Linked DNA regions of Homo sapiens. The protein of the gene in region 1 interacts with the protein of each later gene in a pairwise test. Each region holds a gene or a part of one and is shown on either strand. Other genes may lie near its edges. The genes, in order: AQP6, MARCHF5, DNAJC30 and MARCHF2.

Evidence for each region.
Region 2: the proteins of AQP6 (region 1) and MARCHF5 interact in binary tests that used the Homo sapiens proteins (3 or more experiments, as listed by UniProt).
Region 3: the proteins of AQP6 (region 1) and DNAJC30 interact in binary tests that used the Homo sapiens proteins (3 or more experiments, as listed by UniProt).
Region 4: the proteins of AQP6 (region 1) and MARCHF2 interact in binary tests that used the Homo sapiens proteins (3 or more experiments, as listed by UniProt).

The regions. Positions count from the first base shown.
Region 1 is NC_000012.12:49,968,669-49,975,955, reverse strand, and holds the start of AQP6 (aquaporin-6), read right to left. Parts: upstream 3,010-7,287; 5' UTR 2,783-3,009; coding exon 2,381-2,782; intron 1,633-2,380; coding exon 1,474-1,632; intron 1,211-1,473; coding exon 1,130-1,210; intron 659-1,129; exon of another isoform or gene 492-658; coding exon 285-491; 3' UTR 1-284. UniProt on the Homo sapiens protein: Aquaporins form homotetrameric transmembrane channels, with each monomer independently mediating water transport across the plasma membrane along its osmotic gradient.
Region 2 is NC_000010.11:92,343,166-92,350,186, reverse strand, and holds part of MARCHF5 (E3 ubiquitin-protein ligase MARCHF5), read right to left. Parts: intron 839-7,021; coding exon 655-838; intron 517-654; coding exon 350-516; intron 1-349. UniProt on the Homo sapiens protein: Mitochondrial E3 ubiquitin-protein ligase that plays a crucial role in the control of mitochondrial morphology by acting as a positive regulator of mitochondrial fission and as an important regulator of immune response.
Region 3 is NC_000007.14:73,680,453-73,687,923, reverse strand, and holds DNAJC30 (dnaJ homolog subfamily C member 30, mitochondrial precursor), read left to right. Parts: upstream 1-4,470; 5' UTR 4,471-4,500; coding exon 4,501-5,181; 3' UTR 5,182-7,006; downstream 7,007-7,471. Other genes in the region: BUD23 (18S rRNA (guanine-N(7))-methyltransferase), read right to left, coding at 829-925, 1,024-1,106, 1,193-1,288, 4,023-4,157, 4,251-4,270. UniProt on the Homo sapiens protein: Mitochondrial protein enriched in neurons that acts as a regulator of mitochondrial respiration. Associates with the ATP synthase complex and facilitates ATP synthesis.
Region 4 is NC_000019.10:8,408,930-8,416,312, reverse strand, and holds the start of MARCHF2 (E3 ubiquitin-protein ligase MARCHF2), read right to left. Parts: upstream 3,009-7,383; 5' UTR 2,893-3,008; exon of another isoform or gene 2,519-2,892; intron 1-2,518. UniProt on the Homo sapiens protein: E3 ubiquitin-protein ligase that may mediate ubiquitination of TFRC and CD86, and promote their subsequent endocytosis and sorting to lysosomes via multivesicular bodies.

The DNA.
Region 1 (7,287 bases):
CCTACGGGGTCCAGTGGGTGAGAGGATGGGAGGGCGATCCTAAATCCCCTGCCTTCCTCTGCTCTGTCCCACCGAGAGGTGGGGAAGCCCTACAGAGAGGGAATGGGACAAATTCACTCCCAGATTCTACCTAGAAACGTAATGCCAGGGATAGGGCTTGTCCCCTCCAGCCCACCTGGTCAGGACAAAAGGTCAAGCCTCCCCCTCCCGCCACCCCCAGGGAGAACCTCCAGGCAGGTCCTGCAAGGCAGGAAGCCCAAGGGCGCGGCCAGGCGTAGGCTGTTTCACACACTCTCCATCTCCACGGCTCCCGAACCCGGCTGGGATTCCTTCTTCAGGGGCTCCGCCCCTGCCCCTGCCCCTGTCCCCACCTCTACGGTGCCTGTGAGGATAGCCAGCCGCTGCGCCAGGGTCTTGGTGTCGGGGAACAGGACGAAGTTGTAGATCAGTGAGGCCAGGAGGGCTCCCATCAGGGGCCCCACCCAGAAGACCTGAGGAGAAGGATGTCGTCACCCCACCCAGGAGCTATCAGGACCACAGGGTGGCTCTGGGACCGCTGCCTGCTTCCCCAGTGCCGACTTGATCTCCCAGGTCTCCCTCAACTGTCTGTAAGGTGCTAAATTTGAGAACCACGAGTCGTGTTTCCCAAGCCCACAAGGTAAGGGGACCTTGCCCCTTGCTCTCCCTGCCCTCCCTGGGGCTGAGCCCAGGCTCTGCAGCCGTGGCTGGGGCCTGGGGCCAGTCTCCTCACCCGCCCCCGCCTCTTTCCTCTCACTTCCCCCGTTTTAGCCAGGAGTCCTGGCTATTGCTGTTTCTGTCTCTGCTGGTGTGTGTGTCTATTTCTGTTTGTCTTTTTCTTTATCCAAGTTTGAAAATTGGTCCAGCTGGAGAAAGTGAATAAGGAAACAGCCAGGACTTAAAAGTCTGGGCCAAGGCTGCAGCTCCTGCCCTGGCCCATTTCTTGCCAGTCCACTGGGTATCCTGGGCAACTGAAGCCGAAAAGAAAGGAAGTCTCAGCCAAGACATTCACCCTGGCCTTCTGAGCTTAGGGAAGCTGCAAGTGAAACCCACCGTCTACAGGCAACTCAGGCTCCCTTCCCTCCCCAGGGCTGCCAGCAGAGGGGCTCACCCAGTGGACTGTGAACTTCCCAATGATGATGGCAGGGCCGAAGGAGCGGGCTGGATTCATGGAGCAGCCAGTGAAGTGGATCTGGGGAGCAAGTGCAGGGTCAGGGTGGGAGAAGGTTTAAGGCAGGCCTGAGAGGGGACCATTTCTCAGTCCTGGCTCAGAGCCTTAGCCCCAGCCACGGCCTCTGTAGTGCCATATCCTGGGCCTAGAGTGCAGGGGGTACCACTTTGGCTCCAAGGCACGAGGGGCTCAGGGAGGGACACTGCCTGGCCTTCAGGGCTCCACAGTTTCCCCGGGGACGGACCCGGTGTGTGCATGTGCACGGTGTCCCCTCTGTTCCTTACCCCAATGAGGTGGCCCAGTGCCACAGAGATCCCAATCATGGTGGCCGGGGAGCCTGATGTCTGACGGCTGTCGGTGGAAGCGAAGACACAGAGCACCAGCTGCAGGGTCAGAAGCAGCTCCACTGCCACCGCCTGGCCAGTTGAGACACTGTTCCGGACCTGGACAGAGGGAGTTACTCTGGACCAGACGCGGGCTCTGCCCACGGACAGACAGAGAAACCCCTGCCACTGGGCCTGGTCTCCTCAGCTGGAGGGGGGTGACACCTCACTGCCGCCCAGCTTCAGGACTTCGGGAGGCCTGTGCAGAGGGGTCCATATCTGCTCTGGACCCTTGCTCCCTGCAGAAGTGAGTGGTGCTCCTCCCACCCCACCAGTGGGTTGGTTGGGGCCAGTGGTTCAGGAGGCTTGCTTGAGAGGAGACTGGCAGCAGGTGTGGAAGGAGGAGATTTGGGGGAAGAAGGTGGAACACAGATGGTTACGAAATGGAGAAGGGGCGAGTGAGGCAGGCCTCGAGGTGGAGGGAAGAACTTGGGAACAGTCGGAGAGCAGAGGACGTGGGTGGAGCCTGGGAGAAAAATGAAGTCCCCGTGGGGTCCCCTTCTCTACCCACAGGCCCCGCACTCCCTTGGCCGCATCTACCCTTAAACGCCTGGTCCTTCTATTCCTTCTCCTTTATGTGGCCTCTTCCTTCTCCACCTGTTCTTCGCGCCACTATCCCATTTCTATTCTGCCTAGACTGAGGTCAAAGTCTCAGTCCTCTGGGTCCTGGGGCCCAGCCCGGGAGGATGTGGAGCCTGCAGCTGACTTGTTTCCTCCTTTGCTCCCTCGCCTCCGTCCTGGCCTCCACCTTCACCACTTGTGCGCATTCCCGCCTCCTGGCCCTCCAGGTGCCCCTCCCTGCACCTACCACGTTGATCCCAAGGGTCTCTCGGATGTCTCCCGGCATGACCCCATAAAGCAGAGCAGCCCCCACCGTGGCCCCCACCAGCTGGGCAGCCACATAGGCCACAGCACGGGGCAGAGAGATGTGGGAGCCTACGAGGAAGGCCAGCGTCACGGCGGGGTTGGCGTGGGCCCCGCTGGCCTTCCAGGTGACCTGCACAGCCATGGCGGTGACCAGGTTGAAGGTGATGGCAATCTGTAGCACGGAGGGAAGTGCTGTGGGCCAGCGCATGACTGAGCCCACGCCAAAGAACACATACAGCCCCGTGGCCAGGAACTCTGCAAACAGCGCCCTGCTGATGGCTTTCCAAAGCCTGCACGCCAACATGCTGGCCCAGCCACGTCCCCCTGGCTCCACTGCATCCATGTCCTGGTGCCTTGGCCGTTCCTTGCCTTGCTCTGGGGCCTCTTCTCTGTTCCTCTGGTCTCTGATCTCCTGTCTCTTCTGGTGTCCTGTCTCTGGCTGACCCTGGCTTTTGCTCTCTGTGGAGGCTTCTCTGGCCCCCACCTGCAGCTCCTCCACCACGCTCCTGTCCCCAGGACTGTGCTGGTCAGACTGGCAGGGCGCAGGCGGATGGGCTTATGCATGTGTATGGGGGTGGAATGAGGGGTGTTGCTCATATGCCTGCTCCAGCCTGAGCTGACCTGATGGGGTGGGATGTGGGGGCTGTCTCTGGGCACTGAGCTGGAACCTCCTACGATGATTTCCAGGGCGGGTTGGGCCTGACTCGTGTTGTAGACAGTCCAAGGTCTAGCCTGAGGGTCGCAGGTGCAGGGCAGCGGGGCTCATGGGATTTCAGACTGTTCATGTTCCAATGTCAGCTTAGATACAGCAAGATCACTCAGATCCCCGGCCTGCTTCAGGGGGTCCTGTGCATTCCCAGGTCCTGTTCGTCTGGCCCCCTCCATATCTAGGCTTTGCTTCCAAATGGGCTGACACCACACCGTGCCCGTAAACCCAGAAAGTAAGTTCCCTCCTCCACTCCCACCTATACCCGCACTCACAGAATGCAGATGTGAATACAGTCGACTTTACCAAGGACGCTGTGGACACTGTGGCCTGTGGGGTTGCAGAGGGGCGGGTGGAGAAGGGGTTTATTCCACAGCGACTCAAACCGCGTCAGATCACACAAGGCCATGGGCACCTCTGCTGTCCACCAGGGGAAATTTCCACTGGCCCTTCACTCACTTCCTCCTGCCTCCCTGCCCTCCCCCGCGCTCCCCTCCCTTCTTGGCTCCTCCGTCTCTGCTCTCCTCCTCTCAGGGGCCAAACAGATTTCACTCCTTTCTCACACAAGGCAGCTTAACCATTTTTTGTGGCTGCACTGGCCCTATGGTCACCCATGCCCTAGGCTTTCCCTGGCCCTATGGTCACCCATGCCCTAGGCTTTCCCCTTTTAACCCTAGCAGATAGCAAGGTATCTTCTCAAACAAAAGTGTTCCTCCCTAAGAAGAGTCTGCCAAGCTATTGAAATAACAGTCTTCCCCTCTTCACCGTAGCTGGGTGTCCTGACCTCATCCCTGGCATATCTACCTGCCTACAGATGTCCCCTGGTTGTTCTCAGGCTCCTCAAACGCAATCTGTCTCCAGATGTGATCCTCCTGTCTCCTGGTACCCCCCCCAACCCCCATGTTCTCCTCTTGTTTTCTGCAGCTCAGCTGGTGGCATCTGGGAAGCATCCTTGACCCTTTTCTCCCTCCTTCCCCCATCCAGGAAAAGCATCAAGTCCTGCTGATTTTCAATCCTAAATATCTCCTGACTGTGCCCTCTTTTTGCCACCCCTGCCGCCCTGCAGCCTTTCACCAGTCTCTCTGTCTGCTCCCTTGCTCCGTTTCAATCAATTTTCCATACTGCAGCCCAAGTGCTAAAATGCAAATCTGATCATGCTGCTCCCCTGCTAAAATCCCTTCCAAGCCTCCCATCCCTCTGGAAGCTCTGTGCCTGCCTTCAGGGACCCTGCAGCTCTCCCTCACCTCTCCCCACTCTGTTACCCTCTGGTTTCACCAAATGCACACTCTTGCTGGCCTCTCCTTGGAAAAAGCTCTCTCCTCTTCTTGGAGATCCCTTGCACTCCCTTTGCTTGGGTAACTCCCATTCCAAAGGCTCAGCTTTGACGTCGCTTGCTCCTTTCCTGGGTGGGGACCCTTCTGCGTGCTCCCACCACACCTGGGCATTCTCCTACACTGCAGTCACCACAGGGTGTTGTCATGGTGTGAATGTGTCTCCCCAGTGAGGCAAGGCGGGGAGGCCTTTGGGGGGCGGGAACCAAGTTTTGTTCACCCCTGCATGTAGTGTCTTGCACAGAGATTGGCACAGTAACTGCCCAATAAATATTTGTTGAATGAATGAATAAAAACTTCTTGACTTCCCGGGGCAGATGACTATGTCTGCTGCATTTCAGCCTCATACTCATACCTTCCCCCAACTGGGACTGAGCCCTCTGATATCTTCAAGAGAAACATCTTAACTCTGGACTACAGGCTCTGTTCCTCCCCAGTCCCTGTCTGAGTCCCAGTAACATCCCTCACCCATTTCCTTCTGTTCTCCCTGCTGTCTCGACTTCACCATGTCCTCTCCAGGGAACTCCTGGGCATCTCACCCTGAGCAGGCTCTTGCCAGCGCTCCGTGGTCCTGGCTCCCTGTCCTCTCCACCCCGTCCCTGCTGCGTGTCTCTGTTCTCATCCTCTTCCACGCCTTTCTGCCCCCCATCTGCGCTGCTGAGCACTGCTGGAGAAACTCACCCAGTCGTGCAGACTGCTACCATGACAAGTTCATGGTCTCTGGCCCCAGTAGGGATCGCAGCTCTGCTCAGCAATCCTTCCACAGCTCTCCCCTCATTCTTTAAACCTCCCCCACTCTCTTCAAGTATTCGACTCACTCTGGCTTTCTCTCAGCAGAGCACCCACCCTTGCCTCCCACCCTACCTAGAAAGCCAAGCTACCAGGCAAGACTTCTTCCCATCCTCCCTCCCAGCCAAACTCACCTGCAGCTGCCCTGTGGCCTTGAAGTAGGGGCAGCCCTTCTCCAGTGTACAAGTCGGGGTCGGGGGACCCTCCTTGGACTTCTGGCTCCCTTTGAGTGACTGGGACCCTCTCTTGGCCTTTCCCAGTCTCACCTGTGGCTTTCAGGCTTCCCCTTCTCTTGACTTCTTCCCTATAAACGTGCCTGCGTAGTCGCGGAGCAGTGAAAGATCATGATTTGGAGTCAAGGTTCCAGCCACCTATCCACTGCACAACAGCCCCCAGCCCCCGGCTACCGAAACCGCTCTGGCAAAGGCCAGCATGATTTCCTCTCCAGCCCACTGTGGCACATGGGCTGCCGGCCATCTTCCTGACGCCTCTTTTTCCCTGCCTTTGAGGCACATCTCCTGGCTGTCCTCCCATCTCTGTGAGGGCAACTCTGCCACGTGGCCTCCATGGCTGGCTCCTCTTCTGCTGATCCTTAAGCCCAGGACTTGTCTACTCCTGGCCCATGGCCCCTCACTCCTGATGAGTGTGCCTGGGCAGCCCTGTTCCCACCTGTGACTTCCACACCCTGCAGATACTGTCGACTCTCAACACTGTCTCTGGCCCAGATCTTTCTCCTAAACTCCAGACCCACTCACCTCTCACTGGACCCTCCGGCTTGCTCCTCCTCACCCTACTCTCACTCAGTTGCCCAGGCCAGAACACAGGAAGCATCTGGTGCTTCCCCTTCCCCCAGCCCATAGCAAATAGGTTCCTTGTACCAGGTTCCTGGTAGCTCTTTCTCATATTTGACACCTCTTTCCATCCCCACTTGCCACTGGCCCAGTGCAGCCCTTATCACCTCTCCAGGATGACTGCATTAACCTCCTTCCTGGGCTCTCAGACTATGTTGTGCCCTTCCACACCACTCTCCTCTCCACTCACTGTCAGAGAGATCCTTCCAAAATGCAAAGCTCATCAAGTTACTCCTCTGCTCTAAAGCTTTCAATGGCTCCCCATTGCCTCAGAATCAGGTCTGAATACCCATGTTTAACATGCAAGGAAGGCTCCCCTTCCACTGCCCACCCTGCACCCTTTACTCCAAACAGGCCAGACATATTTCCCCAGAACGAGCCCTTTGCTGTGGAGTTTGGATGCCTCTCCTTTTTGTCTCTCAAGACTTTGCTCAAGTGCTGTTCTTCTGCGAAGCCTGCCCTCATTTCCCTCTCCAGCAGAATCAGGGCAAGCTTCTTAGAGAAGCAGGGCTTGAGCAAAGCCAGGGGCTGGTTGTGGCCTCTGCCTCCTCAATGCCTCCACTGTTCCAGCACAGACATCCATCCCTGGCTGGCATAGAGGGGTCATTCAATAAATGCTCAAGGGATGACTGGGCATGGCTGTGGGGGCGGCGTGGGCACTGTTCCTCCCTGGCACGGGGGGTTCCCTGGCTGGGGGCTGTCCCAGGGTAGCTCAAGGGCACTTGTCTGCTTCCCTCACTTCAGGCAGGGCGAGTAGAGGGCTTGGTGGACAGGCACTTTCATCTGACCTAGCCTCAGTTTCTGCCCTTGTTAAATGGGCGCCACGTGGCAGCAATGCTTACCTGTTGAGAGCTGCTGATGAGGCCACTGAAAGGATTGTGAACACTGCCATGTGTATTGCACCCTAAGCAGTTGCTTAACCTCAAGATCCTCATTTATGCAGTGGGGATGATGCTAATAATTCCCTCCTCCCTGTGTGTAGTTAGGAGTAAATGTGCTGATACCTAGGAGAGGGCCTCCAAGTCAGAAAATGTGAATGATTAGGATTGTAACTTCCCTGCCCCCTGCCGTTAGACAGCTGTGGGGACGGGGCTGCATGGCGGCTCCAAGACAGGCACCTCAGCACCTGCCCTGGGCCTTGGAGCCTGAAAGTGCTAAGTGCAGTGGCAGC
Region 2 (7,021 bases), on another chromosome or scaffold:
AGACATTTGATTTAGATTTCACAGCAAGACAATTTCTGTGATGGGATTTGAACCAGGTGGTCTGATCGTAAAGTACTGTAATCCCACTGGCAAGAGGGACAGGTGTGATGATTCATGCATATGCCAGGAGAGAAAGCACCTACAACATAGTTCCAAAAGGCCAGAACTGCTGCAGTGGTTTCTCCTCTTTTTATTTCCACTCAAGCTATTGAATGATAGTGAGGCTCAAATAGAGGCTTAATGCATAGGAGCCACAGACCGAATATTTATACAGTTCCCCACCTTTTAAAAACAAATACACTTCATTCTCTTTTGCAAGGTAATATAAGTAATGTTAAAGCCGTCTTACCAAGATTGTCCTTTGTAAATTAGAGTTAACACTACTGAACATCAATTTACCAACTATTGTAGCAATAGTAGGAAAGACAAGGGCTCCACACAAGATTCGAGTAGCAGAGACATGATCTGCTAAAGGATTGGCCTCAGCTGGAATTCGAGGAACAGGACAACCTATCCCTAGAGGAAAAAAATGCAGTGCGTTAGTGCTAATAAATCAGAAGAGTTAGACTACCTTCAAACATGGCTAAAAAAGCATGTTATTGTTCTTCAAGATCAATTTGGTATGCACTTTACAACCACAGTTCAGTGCCTTACCTGGAAATATACTATTTAAAATTTGTAGTTTATTCGAGTATTTGCGCCACAGTCTAAGCACATAGTCCTCCCAGCGAATCATCTTGCCTAATATCAGCATGACAGGAATAGTAGGAAGTCCAATTAAAAGGAATAAAGGATCAGCTCTCTCCATAACATCCAGACCTTCTTTATGACCTACAACCTGTGAAACAGATAGCATATATTAGAATTACTTCTTTTTCAAATGAGGTGTTGCATGTTAAGCTCTATTTTTTTAATAGAAAATGCTTAATTTCAAAAGAATACACAGAAATAAAAAGTTTAAAAAATAAGCTGGAAAGCTATCAGTCCTGATTTATTTATAAGAAATGTCTCATTCAAGGGAAAAACAAAGTTCCCAAGCCATTTCATACCACACAGGAATAAAAATTAAAATGGCTGACCCAGACTGATTACATTACAATAGAGGGGCGGGGACCTCTGATTGTTGCTTCTATTCCTTTATTTGATTTGGTTAGACTGGGCTACGGAACTGGGATATAATTCTAAGTCCTATTTGTCTTCCAGCAAAACAACTGTTTTCCTGATCTTCCTTCTAGGAGATTAAGCATAGCCAGCCAAGAGGTAGGACCGGCCTTCAAGAGATGGCCTGAAAGCTCATTTCTCTTTGGCTCTTTCTCCTTACTTAGTGGTGTGTAAGATAGGGTGTGATGTCTCTGGCTGGCTAAGTGTCTACCCTACAGACCTAACCCTCCTTAAGTGCACTTCCAAGGTCTAGAATTGAGGGACTGTAGTAGGAGGTCCAGTTTTGGTTACAGATCCCAGGCATTTTTCCCAATTCAGGAACTCTAGGGTACCCTATCTATGGGGGTAATGAAGCTAATACAATCTTTTCCTTACCCTATCCTAGTCTTGGGGCTATTTCTAAATTGGTGTAGATCCCAGAAGGCGAGAAATACAAAATTGGCATTTGTGAACTTCTACCTTTTCCCTCTCTCCAAAATCCTTTTCACTTCCACATCAATCTTGGCCTTAAATTTACCTCTTTTTGTTGTTGTTTTTGAGATGGAGTCTCGCTGTGTTGCCCAGGCTGGAGTGCAGTGGTGTGATCTTGGCTCACTGCAACCTCCGGCTCCTGGATTCAAGCGATTCTTCTGCCTTAGCCTCCCGAGTAGCTGGGATTACAGGGGCATGCCACCATGCCCAGCTAATTTGTGTATTTTTAGTAGAGACGAGGTTTCATCATGTTGGCCAGGTTGGTCTCGAACTCCTGACCTCAGGTGATCAGCCTGCCTCGGCCTCTCAAAGTGCTGGGATTACAGGCGCGAGCCACCGTGCCTGGCCAAAAATTTTTTTTTTTTTTTTGAGACGGAATTTTTTGCTCTTGTTGCCCAGGCTGGAGTGCAATGGCACGATCTTGGCTCACTGCAACCTCTGCCTCCCAGGTTCAAGCAATTCTCCTGCCTCAGCCTTTCGAGTAGCTGGGATTACAGGTGTGCACCTCCACGCCCAGCTAATTTTTGTATTTTTAGTAGAGACGGGGTTTCTCCACATTGGTCAGGCTGATCTCGAACTCCTGACCTCAGGTGATCCACCCGCCTCGGCCTCCGACAGTGCTGGGATTACAGGCGTGAGCCACTGCGCCCGGCCCCAGAAATGTTTTATGAAAGTGTGTGGAGAGGACCAAATTTGAGCTATGGATATAGTCCAGATTTCCACTTGGTTAATTTATCTAATTAAGATGTAATATTAAAGGGCAGGAGGCTAGCCTCTTCCTAATGGTCAATAATGTCATCGAATTTGATATTCTTCTGTGTCTCCAGGTAGAACTTAACAACTTCCTATCTTGCATGTGGAAGGTGATCCTTTTGAGTTGCCCTAAAGTGAAATGGTCTGGTTTATGATATTTCATAAACCCCAATTCCATAATGGTAGCAAAAGTTAGCTGGCCATGACTGTTTTACCTATAATGATTTCCCAGGAAATTTCTTTATCTATCTATCTATCTATCTATCTATATATCTATCATCTATCTATCTATCTATCTATCTATCTATCTATCTATCTATCTATCTATCTATCTATCTGAGACGGAGTTTCAGTCTTGGCATGATCTTGGCTCACTGCAACCTCCACCTCCTGAGTTCAAGCTATTCTTCTGCCTCAACCTCCTGAGTAGATGGGATTACAGGCACATGGCACAACACCTGGCTACTTTTTTGTATTTTTAGTAGAAATGGGGTTTCACCACGTTAGCCAGGTTGGTCTCGAATTCCTGACCTCAGGTGATCCGCCTGCCTTGGCCCCCCAAAGTGCTGGGATTATAGGCGTGACCCACCACGCCCGGCCAGGAAATTCCTTTAAAGAAAAAAAAAGACAGGGTCTTGCTACGTTTCCCAGGTTGGCTTTGTACTCCTGGGCTCAAGCAATCTTCCCACCTCACCCTCCTGAGTAGCTGGAACTACAGATGAGTGCCACCACGTCTGGCTAAGAAATTCTATTTTTATATCATTAAAAATTTCAATATAATGATCACTCTAACATTATAACTAAATATGATTAAATATTCTCAAAGTGTTAGCAAATAAATTCAGAATATTTGAAAAAATCCTTTGTCGGGTTATGTGTCCTTTTTTTGGGTTTAGAAATATAAAGAAGAGTGAATATTCAGGTATAGACTAGAGCGAACAAGAGGAAGTTTGTTTCTCATGGGTAGCAGTAAAAACCTTATAAGGTGTTTAAGAATAAGGAAACAAAAAGGAAGTAGGGGTTGGGCACTGTGACTCACAATTGTAATCCTAGCACTTTGGGAGGCTGAGGCAGGCGGATCACCTGAGGTCAGGAGTTTGAGACCAGCCTGACCAACATGGTGGAACCCCGTTTCTATTAAAAATACAAGCCAGGCGTGGTGGTGGTCATCTGTAATCCCAACTACTCGGGAGGCTGAAGCAGGAGAATCGCTTGAACCCAAGAGGTGGAGGTTGCAGTGAGCCGAGATTGCACCAGCCTGAGCAACAAGAGTGAAACTCCATCTCAAAAAAAAAAAAAAAAAAAAAAAGAAGGAAATAGGGCAAAGAATGAGCAAAGGCCCAGTATTTCACTTGTTACAACTAAAGTGAAGAGAGATGCCCCATGCTCAAGCAAGTTAGAAGTGGGATGAGGCTCATCATTCACACATGCATTCATTCATTCACTGAATAATGATTTTGTGCTGGGGCTAAAATGGCAGGTTAAACAGATGTCTTTTGAAAGTGAGAGAAAATCAAACCAAACAAGTGTGCAAATATATACACTGTGAAGAAATAAGGTAGTATAACACCTGCAGTACACCACTTGCTAAAACAGTCATACTCAGGGGCAATAAATGAAAGGTGATTAAGCAATAGGCCTGATTTAATTTTGGCCAATACAAAGTCAGTGAACCTGTGTGTAATCACATACATTCTGCTTTCTTGTCCCAAGATTTAAAAACATTATTTTTAAGACTTCGATTTTGGGGTAAGCTCCAGGAATTATATAGAATGTCTAAGAATTTGTTATCTATGTATAAAATAAAGGCCTGGCTGGGCACAGTGGCTCACGCCTGTAATCCAAGCACTTTGGGAGGCTGAGGTAGGTGGGTAACTTGAGTCTAGGAGTTTGAGACTGGGCAACATGGTGAAACCCTGTCTCTACAAAAAATACAAAAATTAGCAGGGCGTGGTGGCATGTGTATGTAGTCCCAGCTGTGCAGGAGGCTGAGGTGGGAGGATCACCTGAGCCCAGGGAGTTCGAGGATGCAGTGAGCCGTGACTGCGCCACTGCATTCCAGCCTGGGTAACAGAATGAGACTCTGTCTCAAAAAAAAAAAAAAGAAAAAAAAAAAAGAGAAAAACAAAAGACCTATAGAATTGCAGGTTTAGAGAAAAATAATTTTTTGTTTTTCCTGCAGAAGGGCTAAAAGCTAGATTTTCATATCTAGGTAGGCCTGCAGTTCATTGCTGCTGAAAGGCTAACAGTTTTAATTAAGGTCTGAGCTTTTAAATTATTATTAGAATTCTACATTAATTAATTAGAGACAGAGTCTTGCTCTGTCGCCCAGGCTGGAGTGCAATCTTGGCTCACTACAACCTCTGCCTCCCAGGTTCAAGCGATTCTCACGCCTCAGCATCCGGAGTAGCTGGGAATACAGCCACTATGCCTAATTTTTTCTTTGTATTTTTGGTAGAGATGGGGTTTCATCATGTTGACCAGGCTGGTCTCCAACTCCTGGCCTCAAGGGTTCTGCCTGCCTCAGCTTCCCAACGTGCTGGGATTACAGGCATGAGCTACAGCACCTGGCCAGAATCCTAACAAGAGGATGAAACAGTGATGAAATAACAGGGTTTTTTTTTTTTTAACTCAGAATCAAGGATAAGTAAGTACTGTAATTAAGAATGGGCAATGCTAATGGGGGCTGTCTTTGCACTAGAGGCAAAAATGGGAACTAGGCTAAACATATTAAGGTTCCACTGTTCCAGGATAAAATGTTCCAGCTGCCTCTGGGACCAGGCTTCACTTAAGGAGCCAAGGGACAGGAGTCCTAATGCTTCTCTGCTGTGTGGCACTGGACCTGTAAACTCTCTAAACCAGTAAACTAGGAATAATTTATAACAATAATCTATGTCATAAAATTGTTGCAAGGGTTAAATGCATCAGTGCTAGGTGTTCAATACAGTGCCGAGAAAAAAAAATTATTGTGTTGTCTTTTCAATAAAAATGCAAGAGGAAGGTCCTATTCAAGTTCCCCACAACTAAAAAGTATTGATTCTATGACAGGTCCATGGAGAAGGAAAGAAAATAAATGGGAAAATAACAGTGATCTGATTCCTTGATTTGGTTTACTTGTACTGCAGGGTTGTTAAGGAATCAGAGAAAAACAATCAAGTGTTAGAAGGCAAACCCTAAATACTACTGATGGTGTAGAGGGGCACATTCTCTATCATATGTGCTCAGGAAGGTAAAAGTCATCTTCCCAATACTCTTAAATCACACAACACTATCCACCTACTGTCATAGCTAGTCTCATTTCTGGGCTAAAAAAAAAAAATCTTTTCAAGTGAGACATTACATGTGAAGGTTATTTCTAAATGGTAACACATATGTGTACTATAGTTTTTGCTTCCTTGCTTATTTCATTCTACCAATTCAAATTATTTCCTTTAAGGGTTAGCTCAAGACTTTTCTCATAATTTCAAATCAAATTATCTTTCACTTTTACTGAATTAAAATATTGTTTATATAGTCTTCTGCCCTCTTATCACATTTATCTATCTAACCTGTAACTGTTCTCCAGTGGTTTCATTTATGAACGTCTTGTCTTGGACTATATCCCTTGATGCTGGGGATCAGAGTTTTCAATTTATTTGTGTTTTAACAAGTGCCCCATTAATTATCAAAATTCTTTTAACATTGTGCCAGCCTAAAAATCTTTCTTAAAAAAGAGCCATCTCACTTCTTATGGTCAATAAAGTCTTAAGAAAATAACTCAATCTCATTTGCAAAATATATATATCTATATAATGTATTTGTACATTAAATAATGTATAATCTGCTCTAAGTTTCTATGTCTTTCTCAGTCTTAGTAAATCATCCTGATCCTCCCTCCTCAGGTGATGTACTAATACTCATTATTTGAAGTGGTCACATAAAAAACATAAAGACTGCCGGGTGCAGTGGCTCACACCTGTAATCCCAGCACTTTGGGAAGCAGAGGCAGGCAGATCATCTAAGGTCAGGAGTTCCAGACCAGCCTGACCAACATGGTGAAACCCCATCTCTACTAAAAAGACAAAATTAGCTGGGCGTGGTGGCACATGCCTGTAATCCCAGCTACTCGGGAGGCTGAGGCAGGAGAATCGCTTGAACCCGGAAAGCGGAGGTTGCGGTGAGCTGAGATCACGCCACCGTACTCCAGCCTGGACAACAAGAGCGAAACTCTGTCTCAAACAAAAAAACAAAAAACAAAACCACAAAGATTTATGAAACCCTTTAATGTGTTAGTTTCTATGTAGATGCTGTAACAGGGAATACAGAAGCATAAAATGGACTCTGCTTTCAAGGAAATTACCTCCTAACAGGAAAAATAAGGCCTAAAAACAAGAAAAGTTAAACAGATAATCTATATAAGAAATGTCACTTCATCAGGGCAGGACTAGCTGCCATTTGAGGAATAAAAATGTCATGAATGTGGGGGAAGAAGGAATCACAGCAGGCAGGAGTTGCCTGTAAGTTCTATGGAGGAAAGCTAGCTAAGCCTGGAAGGAGGGTTTAGATTTGGATAAGTACACAGAAGACTAGAAGGGCAGGTATTAGGTTGGGAAGGTGACGTAAGCCAAAGGACAGAGGTGAAAAACTACACAACATA
Region 3 (7,471 bases), on another chromosome or scaffold:
CCTCCATCTCAAAAAAAAAAAAACAACAACCACGTCTGGCTTTTTAGTAGAGGCTGGGTTTCACCATGTTGGCCAGACTGCAAAGTTTTAGAATCCAAAAAAATACACTCTTGGGCCTTGCTCTAACCTTGTAAATCTGAAAATCCCATGGGATGTGTATTTGTAAATATCTGCATGAGTCTGCTGCACAGCCAGGTTTGGGAGGCACTGGCTTGCAGGACTAAAAGCAGGAAGAAAGAGGCCAGGGTGGCTCACACCTATAATCCCAGCATTTTGGGAGGCCCAGGTGTGTGGATCGCCTGAGCAACATAGCAAAAACCCATCTCTACAACAAATACAAAAAAAGTTAGGCTGTGCACGGTGGCTCACACCTGTAATCCCAGCACTTTGGGAGGCCGAGGAGGGTGGATCACAAGGTCAAGAGATTGAAACCATCCCGGCCAACATAGTGAAACCTCACCTCCACTAAAAATACAAAAATTAGTTGGGTGTGGTGGCGTGCTCCTGTAATCTCAGCTACTTGGGAGGCTGAGGCAGGAGAATCGCTTGAGCCTGGGAGGCGAAGGCTGCAGTGAGCCAAGATCACACCACTGCACTCCAGCCTGGTGACAGAGCAAGACTCCATCTCAAAAAAACAAAAAATTAGCTAGGTACGGTGGTGTGGGCCTGTAGTCCCAGCTACTCAGGAGACTGAGGTGGGCAGATCACCTGAACCCAGGAGGTGGAGGCTGCAGTGTGAGCCATAATCACAGACACTGCACTAGAGCCTAAGTGATAGAGTGAGACCCTGTCTCTAAATAAATAAAAGCAGGAATTAAAGACCCTCACCTGATGCAACCATCAAATGTGCCTGGCTTGAATGGGATGCCCTGGCCCATATCCCCCAGCAGCAGGTCTCCCTCTATCTCTCGGTCCACAGCCTCATCTACATTAGAGAAAAGGCAGTCAGAGAAAGAGAAATACCTGTGGCTTCTCCACACCCATCAGGGTAATCCACCCTGGTGCCAGACAGGACATACTTACCCAGCATGGCAGGGCTGATATCCAGGCCCACCCAATAGTGCCCTTCATCTGACAGATAACTTCCACTCAGCCCAGTGCCACAGCTGGAAGACATGACCAGACACTCAGGGTCAGTTTACAAAGACACTTCACCACCTTAGACAATCTGAACCAGGCCCCAGAATCTCACCCAATATCCAGCAGGTAACAGGGCTTATTCTCTGGCAGATAAAGAAGCTCCAATGCTCGCCCAGCCATCCTGGTCTGGATATCAATCATCCGTGAGCTGGTAAGGCAGAAACACAAGTGGACATGGTAAAGGAGTTCTGGGTGAATACTTCCCCCAGACCAAAAAACAAAAAACAAAAAAAAGCCAAGTTAAAAACAAACAAAAAACGGATCAATCATCCCGAGGTACTCTTTTCTGACCCCTTCTAAGTTGGGATCAACAAATTCAACCATTCGAAAGTGACCCCAAAAATTCCATGTAATTCAGGACCATGTTATTTTGTGGTAACAACTTATCATTGCACCAGCTGCCAAGCAGATGTGTAAAAGCAAATCACTTAGCTAGTAATAAACAACCACTGGGATCTGCAACTCTATTAGGCTGGGCTGCTCTAGCACTTGTTGAAAACATTTTCTCCAAAAATTATTCTCCATAGTTTCTCTCATCTAGAAGGATCAACAATGCACAAAAACCTACAGCAGCACTGTCTGTGAGAAACAGAATGTGAGCCACGCATGGCTTCCCAATAGCCAGTCAAGAAGAAACTTAAAGAAACAGGTAAAAGAAACTGGAGTCATATTTTTTTTTTTTTTTGAGACGGAGTCTTGCTCTGTTGTCGCCCAGGCTGGAGTGCAGTGGCGCGATCTCGGCTCACTGCAAGCTCCGCCTCCCGGGTTAATGCCATTCTCCTGCCTCAGCTTCCCCAGCAGCTGGGACTACAGGCGCCCGCCGCCACGCCCGGCTAATTTTTTTTTTTGCATTTTCAGTAGAGACGGGGTTTCACCATGTTAGCCAGGATTTCTCTATCTCCTGACCTTGTGATCCGCCAGCCTCGGCCTCCCAAAGTGCTGGGATTACAGGCGTGAGCCACCGCGCCCGGCCTCTGGAGTCATATTTTTAACCCCATATATTTAATAACGTATTTCCATTAACTCAATATGTTCAAAATATCACTTCAACATATAATCGACATAAAAAGTCATCAGCAAGGACCGGGCCTGGTGGCTCACGCCTATAATCCCAGTACTTTGGGAGGCCAAGGCGGGTGGATCCCGTGAGCAACTTACCAGATCCCTGGGCAACATAGCAAAACTCCCTCTCCACAAAAAAATTACACAAACTAGTCGGGCGCGAGGAGGCGCGCCTGTAGTTCCAACTACCCGGGAGGCGAGGTTGCAGCCACTGCAGCACTTCGGCCTGGGCGATAGAATGAGAGCCTGTCTCACACGCACAAAAAATTATCAAGCTATTTCAGCCGGTGTGGTGGCGAGTGCCTCTAGTTCCGGCTGCTGGGGAGGATGGCTTGAGGCTGCAGTCGGCAGGGATCATGCCATGGCACTCCAGCCTGGGCAATAGAGAGACCCTGTCCCTAAAAAAAAGAAACAGTATCCAATAGCTATTTATTTATTTATTGAGTCAGGGTCTCACTCTGTCGCCAAGGCTGGAGTGCAGTGGTGCGATCGCAGCTCACTGCAACCTCTGCCTCTCAGGTTCAAGTGATTCTCCTGCCTCAGCCTCCCGTAGGCCCGGCTAATATCTGTATTTTCAGTAGAGACGGGATTTCACCATGCTGGCCAGGTTGGTCTCGGAATTCCTGACCTCAGGTGATCCGTCCACCTCCGCCTCCCACAGGGCTGGGATTACTGGTATGAGCCATAGCGCCCGGCCAGTAACCATTTACTGAAATAGGGCTAGTCTCTCAGTGAGAGAGCACGGAAAAACCACAAAGTATCTTTTTTTTTTTTTTTTTTTTTTTTTTTTTTTTTTTTGAAACAAAGTCTTGCTCTGTCGCCCAGGCTGGAGTGCAGTGCCGTGATGTCGGCTCACTGCAACCTCCCCCTCCCGGGTTCAAGCTATTCTCCTGCCTCAGCCTCCCGAGTAGCTGGGGTTACAGAAACCCGCCATCGCGCCCGGCTAATTTTTTCCATTTTTAGTAGAGCTGGAGTTTCGCCATGTTGGCCAGGCTGGTCTCGAACTCCTGACCTCAGGTGATCCGTCTGCCTCAGCCTCCCAAAGTGTTGCGATTACAGGCGTGAGACACCGCGCCAGCTTCCCCCCGCCCCCATCCCCCCCCCTTTTTTTTTTTTTTAACGACTCGAGGTGCGCTGGCTCACGCCTGCAATCCCAACAGTTCGGGAGACGAAGGCGGGAGGATCGCTTGAGCCCTGGGCTTGGGCCACCTTGGGCAACACAGCGAGACCCCATCGCAACAAAAATTTACAAAAAAAAGCCAGGCGTAGTGGCGCGCGCCTGTGGTCCCAACTACTGGAGAGGCAGAGGGGAGCCACCACACCCGGCTAATTTTTTTATTACTTGCGGAGACGGGGGCTCGCTACGTTGCCCAGGCTGGTCTCGAACCCCTGAGCTCAAGCGATCCTCCCGCCTCAGCCTCCCAAAGTGCTGCGATTGCTGAGATTACACGCGTGAGCCACTCCCACCTGGCTACAACTCAGTAGTTATACAAACTACCCTCTATGAAATTCAGACAATAATACACCAACTGCTGTCTTGGAGATTTATTGGCAACAAGGCGCCACGATAAGCATCCTACGGCCATTACTTCCTTCCCCCCACCAGGACTGACCCCTCGCCCGTACCCACCGCCCAGCGCCTCTTTTACCACATGTTTAGGACAAATTGTCACATTCGACTTTGAAAACCACCCACGGAAAGCAAGCGCGATCACCCCTACCTCAACGCTGAGGTACCGAGGCCCAGAGAGGTCGGCAACTTAAAGTTGATTTACCAGAGACAGAAATCGGCACCCACCCGGGTCCTTCCCTTCCCGCACCCCCAAATTCTACGGCCTTTCCGGGCAACGCCAGCAACAGGGGCAACTTGCCGCTTCCCGACCCCCGGACGCCCCGCAGTATTCAGGCTCCCCTCACTTGCGAACGTATTTCCGGGCTTCTGTCTCGTCATAAAACTGCGAAAAAGAGAAAATGGCATGTAGAGGAATAATTCAGACGCGGTGGCCGCAGAAGTGGGGAGAGGGGTGTCCGCGGGCCCCGGGACTTACCAGCTCTGGGGGTCCGCCATGCTCCGGACGCCGGCCGCGGGACGCCATTCTCACGCCTCAGCAGCACACCTGCGACTGGCGCCTGCCGGCACCCGGTTTTTATGTCATCAGCCCGGCGACCGCTTAGTAATACGCATGTTCCACCCCCACGACCGCCCCGCCCCCCCCTTTACGTGACTGGCCACAGGGCGACCAACCGACTCCTCTCATTGGCCGGTTTCTCTTGCACCGCCTGCCGAATCAATTCAACATGGCAGCCATGCGCTGGCGATGGTGGCAGCGGCTGTTACCTTGGAGGTTGCTGCAGGCCCGTGGCTTTCCACAAAATTCTGCACCCAGCCTGGGCCTAGGAGCGAGGACTTATTCCCAGGGCGACTGCTCGTATTCGCGCACGGCGCTGTATGATCTGCTCGGCGTCCCCTCCACAGCCACGCAGGCCCAAATCAAGGCGGCTTACTACCGTCAGTGCTTTCTCTACCACCCGGACCGCAACTCCGGGAGCGCGGAGGCCGCCGAGCGCTTCACGCGCATCTCCCAGGCCTACGTGGTGCTGGGCAGTGCCACCCTCCGTCGCAAGTATGATCGCGGCCTACTCAGCGACGAGGACCTGCGCGGACCTGGCGTCCGGCCCTCCAGGACGCCCGCACCCGACCCCGGCTCGCCGCGTACCCCGCCGCCCACCTCTCGGACCCACGACGGTTCTCGGGCCTCCCCCGGCGCCAACCGCACGATGTTCAACTTTGACGCCTTCTACCAGGCCCACTACGGGGAACAACTGGAGCGGGAACGGCGCCTGAGGGCCCGGCGGGAGGCCCTTCGCAAACGGCAGGAGTATCGGTCCATGAAAGGCCTCCGCTGGGAGGATACCCGAGACACGGCTGCCATTTTCCTCATCTTTTCAATCTTCATCATCATCGGCTTTTATATTTAATCGGAGAGAGAAGGGAAGGGGAGTGTCCCCAGCCAACCCCCCAGAAACGGCCTTTTTTCCTGCCTCTGAACCCTTGGCCATTGATAGTCTACCTTTGCTGGGATCCGAAGGAACTGTACTCCCCCTGCCCTCCCCGACCCGCCCAGCTTAGCCGATGACCTGCACATCGCTCCACTGTGGTCCAGAAAAGGAGGCCTTTCGATGTCTGAGAAAGAGGCCCCACGCTGTAGAGTCCCGAAAGCCCAGGAGTGAAGGGGGTTCCTGGAGTCTCTAGGGTGCTTCTTCCAGAGTCTGTCTTCTTGCTTCCAGATGTGGTCAACTTCTGGAACACTCGCTGTAGCTTTATTGTTTAGCCCCAAGCAAGATTTATCTCCTCCTGCCCCGCATGTGTATGGTGGGCCTCTGTAACCTTGAAATGTGCAATGTGACCAATTGTTGACTACCAAAAGAAAAGGTCTGGGGTTGTACGAAACTTGTCTTTCTGTGACTTCCCCAAGCCGCAGGTGAGACCTGGTCCAGGGTAAGAATGGGATCGGTGGAGAGCCTGTCGTTCCTCCCGCTAAGGTCAGCCCCCTGGGGCACTCCTCCTTATGTTGATAGCATGTAGGAGTGAGAAAAAGTCATTGAGCATAAGGAATGAGTGTTCCTGTGCCCATATTTAATGTGTGACCTTGGAGAAGTTACTCTGTAGGCATGACAGCAGAGGAGAAAATCATTTGGCATCTTGAGGTCTGTCATGCTTTATTATCCATAGTTTTTGGGGGGTTTTTTGTTTTGTTTTGTTTTTGAGATGGAGTCTTGCGCTCTGTTGCCCAGGCTGGAGTGCAGTGGTGCGATCTTAGCTCACTGCAACCTCCACCTCCCGGGTTCAAGCGATTCTCCTGCCTCAGCCTCCTGTGTAACTGGGATTACAGGCTCCCACCACACCTGGCTAGTGTTTTGTATTTTTAGTAGATACGGGGTTTCACCATGCTGGCCAGACTGAGGTCTCGAACTGCCGACCTCAGGCTGTCTGCCCGTCCAGCCTCCCAAAGTGCTGGGATTGCAGGCATGAGCCACTGCTCCCGGCCCTATTATCCATAGTTCTAATCCACAGGGATTACAGCATAATGCTAGCAGGGCCAGGTTCATCCTTGAGACAGTGTGGCTGGCTGTCACCTGGTCCTCCCTTTACCAGCCAGCCCCATTGCACACTGTGCAGCCCATCCCCTCCCAGAAATAGAGTGACAAACTCTGCACTTAAGTCCCCTGTTTCTGTTTAACTTGCAGTGCTTATCACAGGCCCTTCCTTAATTTTTTAAACAAGGCTGCTTGAGGCTGGGGTAAATTTTGGGGCTTTGGGAGTACACAGGACTACTGAGGGACGGGGAGTTGGTGGCTTGGTGTTCATGGTGGAGACTTGGTTCTTTACGCAGAGCAGGCTAAAGGCGTGTTTTTTCTGCTCTGTTTCTAATTCATGTTAAGTAGTTGGTCATCACTTTGGTCAGAGCTGCTGCTGAAGCTCTCTTAACTGTGAGTCACTGGACGTTGGCAGGGAGTTGGCTGTGAGATTGTAGGTGCTCAAGTGTTTCTGTTCGGGACTGAGTGTGAATCTGTAAAAGGGGAAAATCCTCGCAAGAGGTCTACGAGAAGGATGAGGGCCCAAGTCTAGGGTCTAAACAAAGCCAGGAGTGGTTTGGTATATTACTGAGTGCAATCATTGCGTGCCATTCCTGCACTCAATGTATTGTGTAAAATCCTTAGGTAAAATGGGATAAACCCACAGCTGGTCCTACTTGGCCTCTTGAAAACCATTCCATCATTGTGCCAATCTAGCCTGAAAAGGAAAAAAAAAAAGGGAAACCATTGATTGTCTCTTGCCTCGGAGGTTGGGGGTATGCCCCTACTCCAGGCTTTGCAGTGATCATATGATGCAGTAATGAAGATCTGGGGCCTGGCACAACACTTTGGGATCCACCCAAGGCGGGTGGATCACTTGACCTCAGGAGTTGGAGACCAGCCTGGGCAACACGGCAAAACCCCATCTCTACAAAAATCACAAAAATTAGCCGGGTGTGGCAAGTGCCTGTAGTCCCAGCTACTCAGGAGGCTAAGGTGGGAGAATCGCTTGAGCCTGAGAGGTCGTGGTTGCAGTGAGCTGCGATCCTGCCACTGCATTCCAGCCTGGGCTACAAAGCTAGACCCTATCTCAAAAAAAAAAAAAAAGAAAAAGAAAAAAAAGATTTGAGCCCAATCTGGTTCAGACCTGTTTGGCTCAGTGAGCCTGGACTTGGGGGAAGGGGATATGTAC
Region 4 (7,383 bases), on another chromosome or scaffold:
CTGGAGTACAGTGGCCGATCTCAGCTCACTGCAACCTCCACCTCCTGGGTTCAAGGGATTCTCCTGCGTCAGCCTCCCGAGTAGCTGGGATTACAGGCACCCACCACCATACCCGGCTAATTTTTGTATTTTTAGTAGAGACAGGGTTTCACCATGTTGGCCAGGCCAGTCTCGAACTCCTGACCTCGTGATCCGCCCACCTCAGCCTCCTAAAGTGCTGGGATTACAGGCATGAGCCACTGTGCCTGGCCATGTTGTAGTCATTTCTCAATCCTCACTCCGTTTAAGAACAGCGTGAGAGAGCCACATCTCTTGACCCTCCGATCCTGGTCGGCCAGCCCCTGTGGTGGGCATCAGAGATATTTAGAGGCTAGAGGTCCACTCAAACCACAGAGGCCCAGGCCTGGAAGAGGCCAAACTTGAGGCTGGACACAAAGAGAGGGTGACTGCAAGTCGGACTCAGCTCTGAGGCTGCTGAAATGGGAGAGTGATCTGATGGCTCCAGCAAACTTGGCCCAGTGCCCAGGAGATTTATTTCTCTTCTTTCTTTTGTCTGGTTTTTTTTTTTGTTTTTTTTGTTTTTTTTTTTTTGAGATGGAGTTTCACTCTTGTTGCCCAGGGTGGAGAGCAATGGCACCACCTCGGTTCTCTGCAACCTCCGCCTCCCAGGTTCAAGCGATTCTCCTGCCTCAACCACCAGAGTAGCTGGGATTACCGGTGCCCTCCACCCACAGCTGGCTAATTATTTGTATTTTTAGTAGAGACGGGGTTTCACCATGTTGGCCAGGATGGTCTCAAACTCCTTATCTCAGGTGATCCACCCGCCTTGGCTTCCCAAAGTGCTGGGATTACAGGCATGAGTCACCGCGCCTGGCCTATTTCTTTTCTTTCTTTTGTCTGTTTTTTTTTTTTTTTCTTTTGAGGCAGGGTCTCAATCTGTCACCCAAAAGGCTGGAGGGCAGTGTAGTAATCACAGCTCACTGAAGCTTCCACCGCCCCCAGGTTCAGGTGATCCTCCCACCTCAGCCTCCTGAGTAGCTCTGCACACCACCACATCCAGCTAATTTTTGTATTTTTTTGTAGAAATGGTGTTTTGCCAAGTTGCCCAGGCTGGTCCTGAACTCCTGGCCTAGTGATCTGCCCGCCTTGGCCTCTCAAAGTGTTGGGATTACAGGCATGAGCCACCACGCCCGGCCTGGAGATAGATCTCATTGAGTCTTCACAACAAACCAATAATTACACCCTATGATGGGGAAAGAGGCTGAAGCTCGGAGAGAGGCACCTACTTTCCCAAGGTCATATAGCTAGGAAGGGGTGGTGTCAGAATTTGAACTTAAAACAGTCCAGGGAGTGGTTCTGGACCTCAAGAGACCTGGGTTCTTTAACTCCTGGCCCTCCTGGCTATGCCACCGATGCTGGGTGTCCTGGTTCAAGTCACTTTGCTTCTCTGGGCCTCATTCTAATGATGGAGCTGGTGGACTCTGTCCGTGGAGGGGTCTCCTGAGAAGGAGCCTCCAGGCTGAATTCATCCAGTAAAGCTCACCCTTAGCTAGGCTTGTTTAGGGTGGCACTGAGGCCCCCCAGTCTTTTCCATACCTGCCCAGGCTCCTTTTCCTGAAGGTAGGAAACAGAGGGCAGAGGAATCAGAGGGCCCTAAAACTCCCTACATTGTGGTCTCAGGCAGCTGTTTTACTCTCTCAGCCTCAGTATTATCATCTCTAAAATGAGTGTTACAGGCCGGGCGCAGTGGCTCACGCCTGTAATCCCAGCACTTTGTGCACTTTGGGAGTTCAAGGAAGGTGGATCACTTGAGGCCAGGAGTTCGAGACCAGCCTGGTCAACATGGTGAAACCCCGTTTCTGCTAAAAAGACAAAAATTGGCCAGGCACGGTGGCGGGGGCCTGTAATCCCAACTACTTGACCAGGGTGAGGTAGGAATCGCTTGAATCTGGGAGGCAGAGGTTGCAATGAGCTCAGATCGTGCCACTGCATTCCAGCCTGGGCAAGAGAGAGAGACTCTGTCTAAAAAAAAAAAAGACGGGGAGTCATAATGATATGTAGTTCATAAATTAGTAAAAAATTAAGAAGTTAATAACTATTAGCTCTTATTATAATTACTATCATCAGCTTACAGAGTTGTTGATGAGAGGTCACACAGTCAACCCTGGCACACACAGTAAGTGCTCAATAAAAGCTCTATTAATATTTTTTAGGGTAAATGTGGAGGTTGTTATTGCATTCATTCCTCCCTGCATGAGAAGCAAGGTTCCAATCCCAGCTCTACTCCTTATGTGCTGTGTGGCCCTGGGCAAGACACTTAACCTCTTTGAGCCTGGACTCTCTCAACTGTATAACAGGGGACATTTCTACTGCTTCCACCTACTCAGTATGGTTTCAAAAGAACTGAATGAGCTCAACATGCCCATTTGACTACCCCGTTTTGAGCACCCACATAGCACAGGGCATCCTGTTTCAGCATCTTTGTGCAAAGTGGCTGGGTCATTATATTATAACTTACTATTTTGCAGGCAGAGCCGCTCTGAGAAGGAGGTTGGGGAAGGGCATTGGCCACTTAGCAGTTGCCTACTGTGTGTCAGGCGTTTTCTGCACCAGCCACCTCCTGAATCCTCCCAGAAGCCCCATCAGGTTGGCAATGGGATGACCCAGTTTCACAGGTGGGGAAACCGAGGCTCGGAGAGGCGCCTATGTGTGCCGGACCCCGGAGACCTCCCACCGGCCTTGACACGGGAACTGAGGTCCCCGCGTCCCCGAGAAGGCTGTGGCCAAGGGATCGAGCCCAGCCGTCCCGCCCGGGTGCCGAGCTCCGGCCTCGAACCCGGGGCCGGCCCGCGGACTGGCGTCCTCCGGCCCTACCTGCAGGCCCGTGCCTACCTGATCCGCGGCCGGGCCGGGCGGCCGCACAGGCCCCTCGGTTCGCCTCGGCCCCGGTCCCGGCCCGGCCCGGCCCGTCGGCGCCACTAGCTCCGCTCCGGCCGGCACCTGCGTCCGGGCACCGCCCGCCGAGCCGACAGCGCCGCGGACCAATAGCGACCGCCTCTCGCCTGCATTCGCCAATCGCCTTGCACGTCCCGCCCTAAGAGGCGGGGCCGGAGGCCACAGGGACGACTTGGGCCGCACAGGCCCCGCTGTGCCGCAGCTGCTGGCTCCGCCCCTGCCGCGTCTTGGCTCCGCCCCCAGCTCCGGCTCCGCCCCAGCACTGGCCCCGCCCCAGCCCCGCCCCAGGCACGAGGGGGTGCTGCTGCGCCACCTGCAGACGGCCAGCGTCCTCTAATAAATAAAACCTCTGCAGAATTTAACTTTTTTTTTTTTGAGACTGGCCGGGTGCAGTGGCTCATGCCTGTAATCGGAGCACTTTGGGAGGCCGAGACGGAAGGATCGCTTGAGGCCAGATGTTGGGGACCAGCCTGGGCAACATGGTGAGTTCCCGTCTCTACAAAAAATTTAAAAGGATGGGCGCGGTGGCTCACGCCTGTAATCCTAGCACTTTGGGAAGCCGAGGCGGGCGGATCACGAGGTCAGGAGATCGAGACCATCCTGGCTAACACGGTGAAACCCCGTCTCTACTAAAAATACAAAAAAATTAGCCGGGCGTGGTGGCGGGCGCCTGTAGTCCCAGCTACTCGGGAGGCTGAGGCAGAGGAATGGCGTGAACCCGGGAGGCAGAGCTTGCAGTGAGCCGACATCGCGCCACTGCACTCCAGCCTGGGTGACAGAGTGAGACTCTGTCTCAAATAAATACATAAATAAATAAATAATAAAATAAAATAAAATAAAAGTTAGCCAAGTGTGGTGGCCCAGGCCTGTAGTCCCAGCTGCTCTGGAGGCTGAGGCAAGAGGATCACTTGAGCCCAGGAGTTCGAGGCCAGTCTGGGCAACATAGTAAACTCACCCACCCCCATCTCTAAGACAGATCAATTTTTAAAAAAATACTGCACTATATGTTCACTTAGTATAAGCACACTTTTGCACATAATCACAGTATAACCTTCAAAATCAGAAAATTAATGTTCATCTAATATTATCATGTAATTCCCAGAGCCCATTCAAAGGCCAGGTGCAGTGACTCATGCCTGTAATCCCAGCACTTGGATCATTTGAGGTCAGGAGTTCGAGACCAGCCCGGCCAACATGGTGAAACCCTGTCTGTACTAAAAATACAAATAATTAGCTGGGTTTTGTTGTGGGCACCTGTAATTCCAGCTACTCAGGAGGCTGAGGCAGGAGAATTGCTTGAATCTGCAAGGTGGAGGTTGCAGTGAGCGGAGATCTTGCCACTGCACTCTAACCTGGGCAACACAGCCAGACTCTGTCTCAAAAAAAAGAAAAGAAAAGTTTCCAATAAAGTCCTTTAAAAATCCAAAGTCCAGGCCAGGCACAGTGAGTCATGTCTGCAATCCCAGCTCTTTGGGAGCCCAAGGCAGGAAGGTCTCTTGGGTCTAGGAGTCTGAGATCAGTCTGGGCAGCACAGTGAGACCCCATCTCTACAAAATAAAATAAAAATATTAGCCAGTTGTGGTGGCATCCTCCTGTGGTCCCAGCTACTTGGGAGGCTGAAGTGAGAGGATCAATTGAGCCCAGGAGTTCTGGGCTGCAGTGAGCCATTACCTCACCACTGCATTCCAGCCTGGGCAACAGAGCAAGATCCTGTGTCAAAAAACAAAAAATCCCAAATCCATCCCAGGATCAAGCATTGTATTTTGTTGTTAACGACTCTAATTTAGTCTCTCTTTCTGGAACATTTTATCAATCTTACCTTCTCTCCATGACATCAATATTTTTCAAAAATTCCAGGCTAGTAATTTTGCAGGAAGTCCTTCCATTGCTATTTGTCTAATACTTTCTCATGATTTTGCATTTGTGGCAGGAAACAGATGTGACGTTGTGTTTTCAGGATGCATACAATGCTGATTTTGTCCACTATCGATTGTGCTAACTTGGTTCAAATGGTGTCTGCCAGTTTCTCCAGTGTGAGGTTAGTATGTTACACTGTGGTGTTTTGTTGTTGTTGTTGTTTTTAATATTTTATTTAATTTTAATTTTTTTTTTTTTTTTTTGAGACAGAGTCTCACTCTGTCACCCAGGCTGGAGTGCAATGGTGTGGTCTCAGCTCACTGCAACCTCTGCCTCCCAGGTTCAAGGGATTCTCCTGGCTCACCTCCCGAGTAGCTGGGATTACAGGCCCGCACCACCACGCCCAGCTAATTTTTGTGTTTTTAGTAGAGGCAGGTTTCACTATGTTGGTCAGGCTGGTCTTAAACGCCTGACTTCAAGTGATCTGCCCACTTCCGCCTCCCAAAGTGCTGGGATTACAGGCAGGAGCCACCACGCCCGACCAATTTTTTTTTTCTTTTTTGGCGATGGAGTCTCATTCTGTGGCCCAGACTGGAGTGCAGTGGCGCCCTCTCTGCTCACTGCAACCTCCGCCACCGGTTCAAGTGATTTTCCTGCCTCAGCCTCCTGAGTAGTTGTGATTACAGGCCCGCACCACCACGTCCAGCTAATTTGTGTATTTTTAGTAGAGATGGGGTTTCGCCATGTTGGCCAGGCTAGTCTTAAATTCCTAACCTCAGGCATGAGCCACGGCACCTGACTTTACACTTTGTTAATAAGTGCTTTCTGGGGAGATACTTCGAAAGTAATTAAATAGCCTGTTCCTCAACACACGCCGTTTCCAAGAGCTTAATATCAATTGATGACCCTTGCCTGAGTCAGTTATTACCATAATAGCAACCAAATGGTGATTTTCTTTTTTGAGATGGAGCGTTGCTCTGTCGCCCAGGCTGGAGGGCAGTGGCGCGATCTCGGCTCACTGTAAGCTCCGCCTCCGGGGTTCACGCCATTCTCCTGCCTCAGCCCCCCGAGTAGCTGGGACTACAGGCGCCCGCCACCACGCCCGGCTAATTTTTTGTATTTTTTTTTAGTAGAGATGGGATTTCACCGTGTTAGCCAGGATGGTCTCGATCTCCTGACCTGGTGATCCGCCCTCCTTGGCCTCCCAAAGTGCTGGGATAACAGGCGTGAGCCGCCGCGCCCGGCCCCAAATGGTGATTTTCTAATTCCATCTTGGGGCATTTCCTTACTAACTGGCTCAACAAACTCTTCCAGGCTGACTTGTCTTGTCTTTTGCCTGCCCCAGGCCTGGACTCAACCATTTTTCCGAAGAGCCCTGGTTCATTTTAGTGGCGAATGATATTTTATTTATTTATTTATTTATTTATTTATTTATTTATTTATTTAGAGACGGAGTCTCGCTCTGTCGCCCAGCTGGAGTGCAGTGGCGTGATCTCGGCTCACTGCAACCTCCGCCTGCCGGGTTCACGCTATTCTCCTGCCTCAGCCTCCCGAGTAGCTGGGACTACAGGCGCCCGCCGCCCCACCCGGCTGATTTTTTTGTATTTTTTAGTAGAGACGGGGTTTCACCATGTTAGCCAGGATGGTCTCGATCTCCTGACCTCGTGATCTGCCCGCCTCGGCCTCCCAACGTGCTGGGATTATAGGCCTGAGCCACCGCGCGCAGCCAATTTTTTATTTTATTTTATTTTGAGATGGAGTCTCCCTCTATTGCCCAGGCTAGAGTGCAGTGGTGCAATCTTGGCTTACTGCAACCTCTGTCTCCTGGGTTCAAGCGATTCTCCTGCCTCCGCCTCCTAAGTAGCTGGGAATACAGGTGCACGCCACCATGCCCAGCTAGTTTTTTTGTATTTTTAGTAGAGACGGAGTTTCACCGTATTGGCCAGGCTGGTCTCAAACTCCTGACCTCGTGATCCACCTGCCTAGGCCTCCCAAAGTGCTGGGATTAAAGACGTGAGCCACTGTGCCTGGCCTTAATTTTTAAATAATAGAGACGGGGCTTGCTATGAGGCCCAAGCTAGTTTTGAGCTCCTGGGCTCAAAGGATCTTCCTGCCTCGGCCTCACAAAGTGGTAGGATTACAGGCGTGAGCCACTGTGCCTGGCAGATAATTTCATTTATTTATTTATTATTTATTTATTTATTTATTTATTTTTGAGATGGAGTTTCACTCTATCGCCCAGGCTGGAGTGCAATGGAACGATCTTGGCTCACTGCAACTTCTGCCCCCAGGTTCAAGCAATTCTCCTGCTTCAGCCTCCTGAGTAGCTGGATTACAGTCACTTGCCACCATGCCCATCTAGAATTTGCATTTTTAGTAGAGACGGGGTTTCATCATGTTGGCCAGGATGGTGTCAAATTCCTGATCCTAGCACTTTGGGAGGCTGAGGTGGGTGGATTACTTGAGGTCAGGAGTTCAAGACCAGCCTAACCAATATGGTGAAACCCCATCTATAATAAATATACAAAAATTAGCCGGGCATGGTGGTGTGTACCTGTAGTCCCAGCTACT